2 linked regions of the Homo sapiens genome follow. The protein of the gene in region 2 purifies or fractionates together with the protein of the main gene of each other region. This does not show direct contact. Each region holds a gene or a part of one and is shown on either strand. Other genes may lie near its edges. The genes, in order: DMD and KCNJ4.

The links.
Region 1: the proteins of KCNJ4 (region 2) and DMD purify together in Homo sapiens (affinity purification with western blotting, with the first as the bait; one study listed by BioGRID). This does not show direct contact.

What each region holds. Positions count from the first base shown.
Region 1 is NC_000023.11:32,343,785-32,347,604, reverse strand, and holds part of DMD (dystrophin), read left to right. Parts: intron 1-1,524; coding exon 1,525-1,662; intron 1,663-3,820. UniProt on the Homo sapiens protein: Anchors the extracellular matrix to the cytoskeleton via F-actin. Ligand for dystroglycan.
Region 2 is NC_000022.11:38,448,498-38,452,317, reverse strand, and holds part of KCNJ4 (inward rectifier potassium channel 4), read left to right. Parts: intron 1-3,820. UniProt on the Homo sapiens protein: Inward rectifier potassium channels are characterized by a greater tendency to allow potassium to flow into the cell rather than out of it.

The sequences.
Region 1 (3,820 bases), on a different chromosome or scaffold from region 2:
TTTTAGGTAATAAGTGTGTGAAGCAATAGGAGAACTATTCCCACCAATCTTAGTTCCCACTTCCTGGAGCTGCCTCAATCAATACTCCCCATGTATGGGGTTTGGTGGCCTTGCCAACTCAGCTTGTGGAAAGACGGAAGAGGCTTTCCAAGTTGCTGAGTTACAGCAATCTCTACTTCAGGTCAAAGAAGAAACTAGAGGGCACCAAGATGAAAAAAAGTACTGATTACCTCTTGGGCTGACCCCAACTCTGCCCTAGAGCCCTCAACTGGTATAGGGAAAGAAGTGAAGTGGGTTTTTTAATTTTTTGTTGTTTTTGTCCTCAGCCCTAGAAAATGCTACAGACTTTTACAACACCTTTTAAAATAAGTAAAGTCTTTTACAGACTATAAGTATATGATGTGTCTATATTATGATAAGTATATAATGTGTCTATATTATGCCGTATGTTTCTTTAGATTATTGACCAGTCTCTGACAAAAATAATCCCTTTCCCCCATACAAAATGAATCAGTCCTCAGTTGCGTGTTGAAGTTTATGCATTATAGATTTAAATATATAACATCTAATTCCTTGAATTGTAATACACACATACAAATACTTGTGACTTTTGAAATTTATTATTTGTTTTCCTTATGTCATCAGTGTACCTTGAGTACCATTACAATGTGAGACTACTTGATACAAAGTTTTCACATTCTGAGTTGAAAGAAAGAAAACTAAAGGTGAAAAATCACATGGTCATATATGCGACTATATTAGACCAGCATTTATTCAAAACATTTTATTTCTAAGTAAAGAAAATTAAGATATTGTTCTTGCAGCCTAAAGGAACAAAATACCCATTGAAAATGTTTAAAGCCATTTTCCAGTCCATATTTTAGTATTATTTGATCGTATTTAAATTAACATGCATATATGACATATTTTAGAAATTATTTGATGGTAACTTAGCACATGATTTTTATTAATATCCTGATATTTCTCCTATTAATATTGAGCATTTAGGTTTCAGAAATGAAGCAGGAGTTATTAGATAGGAATTAGTGTACATTTAAATCAAAATATTTTCATGTAGTTGTGTGTTAATATTTTCAGATTTGCTGTTATCTCAGTCACAAATACACATCTGTATTCCTTTATGGATCAGTTAACATTATAAATGATAACTTTAGCTCATTTCTCTAATGTTTTAATTTCTAGAACTACACTAAAAAAGCCAAAAGAATACTTTCACAGTAATTCATGACTTGTCTGACATGATGAAGTACCACACTCCCCCATCTTTCTACAGGTGCCCCTAAAAATGTGTTCTTTACAACTAGATGGGAGGAAACTTATTTTGAAACCTCAAGTACCAAATGTAAAAGAAAGGCTATGAGCACAGTATCTTATAATAGCATTCCATGAAAGTTTTAAATTGGATTTTTGTGTGTGTTTAAATAACATGTCTTATTATCTCTGTTAACAATGTACAGCTTTTTAAAAACCAAAATGAAGACTGTACTTGTTGTTTTTGATCAGAATGAAGACAATGAGGGTACTGTAAAAGAATTGTTGCAAAGAGGAGACAACTTACAACAAAGAATCACAGATGAGAGAAAGCGAGAGGAAATAAAGATAAAACAGCAGCTGTTACAGACAAAACATAATGCTCTCAAGGTATTAGAGCTAAAATTATAATATACCTTGCCTGTGGTTTTTTTTTAATATATAGGGTAAAATATAATGTGCATTAATAAAATCTGCTTCAGACTTAGTCATCAGAAACTCACTTTTTCTGTTCAATGTGTATGCTTTATTTAACATTTTTGAGTGGTATTTGATTTTGAACGATGTGTTGCTTAAAAGTTATGGCTTTTTAAAGACATATTTTTCTAAGTAGTAATTGAAAGATGGGAATGCATTCATAGTACTTATACATTTAATTTTCTAATGTGCTTTATTTTTATCAGCTACTTTATATTGAAAAAAACCTGCCTAACTGCCAGAATAACCGATCTACATGTATCCATTATTCCTGCTTTCTTTACTTAATTGATTTTGCTTGCATTAGGTCCAATTTTTTGGTAACCTGATACTTGTTTAATAAGCCCTAGATTCTTTTATTTATTTTTAAAACTTTATTATGCCTTTAAGAAAGTCACTCTTTGCAACTATCTACAAAGTCAAATTTCATTTATGTAGGAATCCTAAAAAATAATCTTAGTGCCCTTGAATAAGAACTGCTACTTTCATATTAAGCAGTGTAGTGTATGGCTTCAAGTCCCCAGGTGACTCATCTGGTTTGTGCAGGAAGAGCAGGATAAACTTAATTTTTCTATAATAATATCTAGGAAGTTCTTGAGACTAGACATGTGGAAAGTTTTGTGAAACTTTTTTTTTGTATATGCTTTGCAATAATCACTATTTGCATGCATGGCTGATTTTCTAATACTTTTAATTGCTGAGCTTTTCCTTGTAAATCACTCTTTTGAGCTATGTAGTTATGAAGGTGGATCCACCTAGCAGGTAGATGGAGTCTGCTTTCTACATGCAAATAAGAGAATAAAACCTTTCCCCCTATAGTCAACCAAATAAACACTGCTGAGAATGTAATTACACAATATTGTGCCTGCAAGGAATCCACAAGGAAAGTCTAATTGGCCAGCAGGTGTTCTGAAGGTAACTGCTGATAAATATAGTAAACAGAAAAGGCCTCTTCCTCGAGGGAGTGCAAAAGCACACCATAATGTGTCTAGAAAATCGGAACGCTATGTAACTCACACCCTTCCAACTGTGAGCAAGCTTTCAGAAGTATCTACACTGGTCGTATGATGGTGTGTGTCCTACTGAATAGCAGTGTTTAATGGTCATCTGGCATTCCTCTAAAGAAATCTACATGACATCTCTAAATATTTTACATATTATACATCACTTTGTGCTTAGGAAATGAAAGATGTTTCAGATTGATGACCACCAAGCCCTTTCTCCTGGCAAAGATGTGAGTTATGTCACAAATAAGGCATGGCTCAACTCTAATTCACGTGGCTGTATCTTGCTACCTTTGAAAAAAGCAGCGTTCGATCTGACTCCTCAGAAGGTTTGAAAATTCAACATAAAACATAAAGTACAGCAAGGTTTAAATTCCCAATTTTAAACAAACTAGATAATGAAATGTAGTTCATTCTTGCAAATACAGGCTATAAGTGATTAATCAAAATCGTCAACACTACTCGCCAAACCAATCTATACCAACATATTCAATAACTTTTTAAACCTGTCAAATAGTTCCAATTCTGGTCCTTATGAAATATTTTAGAGAAGGTCAAAATTTTCCAATGGAATGAAATTTTTAGAAATTCCCTGATATTTATTATTTTTTCGCTCGAATTAAACCTGTGAATAAAACCCTAATTGCTACTTTCTGTAGAAATGAAAGCTGCATGCAGAGCTTATGTTCCCATGAATTATAAAATGGCATTTTGAGTAATTCTATTAATCACAGAAGATATTGAGTGTGCTTGTAAAGAGCATGATGACTGATTTCCTCCCATTGTTGATTTATTAAATTAGTCTTATCACATTGATTTGAAAGCATGCACTTGCTGTTTTCTTTTTTCAAATAGTTAATTGTTTTGCATTTAGAGCATGATTTGGTATAGTAAGATAAATGTGGCTATGCAAGCCTTGGAAGGAGAAGCATTTATCTCACATAATTTTTTATTAGTTATGTTCACCAATATACGAACAGTGGTGACACTTCTACACATACAGCTTGGAACAGTTTATAAGACAACTAAAATGGCTTTATATTTCTAATCATAAAATATTAATGGCC
Region 2 (3,820 bases):
AGGCTTGGTTCAGGACCCTGGTCTGTCAGTGCCTTGCTCTGTGACCTTGGGCAGCCCCTTGCCTCATGTGGAGTCCACATCTGTATAGAGAACGGCTGGCCACTTAAGATCTTGGCGATTCTCCTGAAAGAAGGTGCCCTTAAGTTCTGCGGCTCTCCTGGGCCCAGAGGAGGGAGCCCTGGATTTCAAATCACCCTCTGTGACCTTGAGCAATTGGCTTCAATGCCTCATGCCTCCATCTCCCCACCTGTAAAATGGGGATGACAGAATCCTCAAAGGCAACAGCTATGAAAGCAGGAGACAGGAGTAGAGATAAGGCCTCTGACTCTGAAACCATAGACACTCAGGGGCCCGTGGATCCAGCATGCTGGGCAGGGGTTGGACAGGGTAGAGTGGGAGGGTGCCTGGATTCAGACAGAAGGTTTGGAGCTTAAATCACTGGTCTGATGCCTTCGTTTTACAAAAGTGGAAACTGAGGCCTGAGGGGGAAGTAGACCCATCAGGGTCACAGTGATGGTTTGTGGGCGGAGGAAGCAGAGCCAGGGCCATTGTTTTACAAAAGTGGAAACTGAGGCCTGAGGGGGAAGTGGACCCATGAGGGTCACAGTGATGGTTTGGGGGTGGAGGAAGCAGGGCCAGGGCCTGAATCCAGGGCTTCTGGCTCCCAGCTCTATCTGGAAGCAGACAGACAGATGTCCCTGTGTAACACTGTGGCAAGCCCAGACAGGACCCAGGAGCTTTGAGGGCCCAGCTCTGAATTCGGCCACCTCCTTTCTCCCTCCCTTCTCTCCAGATCCCCTCACCCCACTGTCCTTGGGCACTAATCCCCTCCCTCTATTGGTCTCTTTGAAGAACTCCTTTCAGTCTCATTTTAAAGCCAGTTTCAGGCAGTCCCAGGCAAGGACAGGTTGGATTTGGGGTTAACTGGAAGCTTATGCTCCATTCTAGAAAATTCCCAGAGCTGGAGGTGGAGCAAGATAGGGAGCAGCTGTGGTTGTTTTGTGAGATAGTGGGCTCCTCAATCCTAGAGGTATTCAAGCAGAGCCAGATGAGCACCTGCCAGGTGACTCTCGCCTTACGGGTGAGGCCGAATAACATCCCCACTTCCAAAATCCTAGGAGTCTTTGGTGTTTCCCAAAGAGGAGCTGGGAAGCAGTGCCCATCGCTTCCCCGCTTCCCAGCGAGGAAACACATTTGCTCGCCAGGCACTGGGCTAGGAGCTTTTGCAAATTCCCATTTAATTCTCCATGGCAATGTTGATTTGATGTCCCCGTGTTATAGATGGAAGGGCCATGGCTCAGAGAATCTATGTGATTTGTCCAGGGTCACACAGTAAGACAGCAGAGGAGCCTGGGTGTGAGTTCAGACTAGTCTGATTCTCGGGGGCTGTCTCTGGGGCTTCCCTGGGGAAAGAGTGGAAAACGTTCCTCCCTGGGGCTGGGGCTTGGCAGGAGATGGTCTAGACGCCCCCACAGCGTGACACCCCCTCAGGGATCCTCTGGCTCCTCTGGGGGCTCCATTCTGAAGACAGATACCACCATGCATCTTAGGGGAGAACTCATTTCATAGATGGGAAGACTGAGGCCCAGAGACAAGGAATGACCTGCCCGAAGGTGCCCAGAGAGTTAGATTAGGGCCAGGCTGCCTGTCTCCTGGCCCAGGGCTCTGTCCCCTGTGCCAGTGAGTGAGGAGGGGCCTTTGGGCTGACGGTGGTGGCATGAGGTGTGAGGTCGGGAATGCAGAGGGCTGAGAGAGGGCTGGCTCCAAGCTAGGGCTGCAGGAGGAAAGTTATCGGCGCAGGGAGAGGGGAGCAGAAGGGAAATGGCACATGTGCTACAGAGCCTGGTGAGGTCAGTGGGACCTGGCTGGCAGGAGAGGGTCTTGGAGACAACTTCCTTGGGTGGCTCTCTGTGTGACCTTAGGTCAGTCCCTCACCCTCTCCGAGTGATGTCCACCCATCCATGTGAACCTGGGCTGAAAGATCTATTTCCACCGAGTAGCTGTGGTTGGGCTGCTGTCGAAAAGCGCTCCTCCCAACGATGGGAGGACTGTGGGTCCTGGCAAGGGGCAGGCGGGAATCCTAGGGGTTGGCATAACCTTTAAGCCTCCTCTGCGGACTCAGCCCTCCTTGGGGTGTGGGGGATCGCCAGTCACAGCCCTTCTTCTCCTTTTCATCTTTATTTTTCTCCTGTTCCCTCTTCCCCTCGCTACGTGGGCTGATCGCTGCTCAAACTTTTAATTCAGATGGTAATTGAAATAATAATATGGGCTGAGGCCCCTCTGCTTGTGACGCTGCAGCTGGTGGAGCTCGGCTATGAATAGACCTTGAGTCACACACGCGCGCTCCTGCAGGCGCGCACACGGGCGCTCACGGGGTGGTGGGTGGGGTGCAGCATGGGGAGCAGGGGTGAGCTCACGCTCTGGCTTGCTCTGGTCTTGGCCCCCCACTCCCAAAGGTCTTGACCAATCCTGGCCCCGTGGCCCAACACGGGGTCCCTGTCGTGAACCTGGAAGACTTTGGACATAGATGATTCTCATTTACAGAAGGGGAAACTGAGGCTCAGCAAGGGGAAGTGGCTGGCTGGAAACAGGCTGGATTTGAATGGATGGGTTTTGCCTGATTCTAAGACCACTGTTCTCTGTTGGGACACACAGGGTGGGAAACCGGTGGGGAGGAGTGCTGGCGTGTGGCCCCTGCCCCTCCCTCTGCACCCGTTGCCCCACCTGCTCGCAGCCCCCTTTCAGCCTGCGCGTGCATGCTCAGGCACAGACACAGGCACACACGCATGCGCATGCGTGAGGGCTGCTCAGATGGCTGGTGCCGTTGCTTGGTGGCTGGGGTGAGAGCAGTGTTCTCAGGGTATTGCTGCAGGAGGGAAGCTGAGTGCCAGGCTCAGCGCTGGGCTTCATATTCATGATTTCACTTAATCCTCCACCACCCTGGGAGAACCATCACCCCCACTTCTCAGATGAGAATACTGAGGCTCAGAGAGAAGCAAGGATTGGTTCCAGGCTCCTGGGTGGAAACAGCCACAGATGCTTTGTCCTACTGTGCACCCAGTGCCAGCCCCTCCAGGACCCTCATTGGCCACCTGAAGGGAGGTGGGTACATGTCTGCCAGCCTAGGCCTCCCCTTTCCTTCCATGCAACAGCTCAGCCACTCCTCCCTGTGGCTGCTGGCCAGTCCCTGACCAGCCCTGGTGCCAACAGCTGGGACGTCTGGCCTTGGCAGGCAGGGGAGGGTGAGGTGCCCCAGAGAGACATTGGCAGGTCAAGAGGTCCTTAGGGGCTACCAGGAAAGGGGGTCCTTGGTGTTCCCGACCCCAGCAGGAGCTGTGGAGGGAGAAGTCAGCGTTGTAATGGTGACCTGTCAGCTGGGAGCTTTGGTCTAGGCCTGGGGGGCCCCCAGCAGGGCAGAGGGGAGCTGGGGCATGGGAGGTGCAGTTGGGCGGAGGAGCTCCCTGGGACTGGGATGGAGGAGAAGCCCCCACCAAGCCTGGCCCAGCAGCTCCTGTCTGCGGCTGCATTGGCCTTCTCTCCATTTCCTCTCCTGGGAGATGGAGAAACCGAGTCCGGAGACCACCAGGGTTTGCCCAGGGTCACTCAGCAATGGTGGCAGAGCCTCTCAACCCGGAGCTGCTCCTGACTCCTCTGTGTCCTGATGGCTCCCAGGGCTGCCGGCCCCTCCTCTCTCACTGACACTCCCCAGAGCTGTGGGGTCTGTGGGAGGCGAGCAGGGTCTGGGTCTCTTTAAGCTCCTTCTCCCCAGAAAATCCCCAGATCGGAGCGAGGGGAAGGGCAGCACTCCCTGGTCACAGCA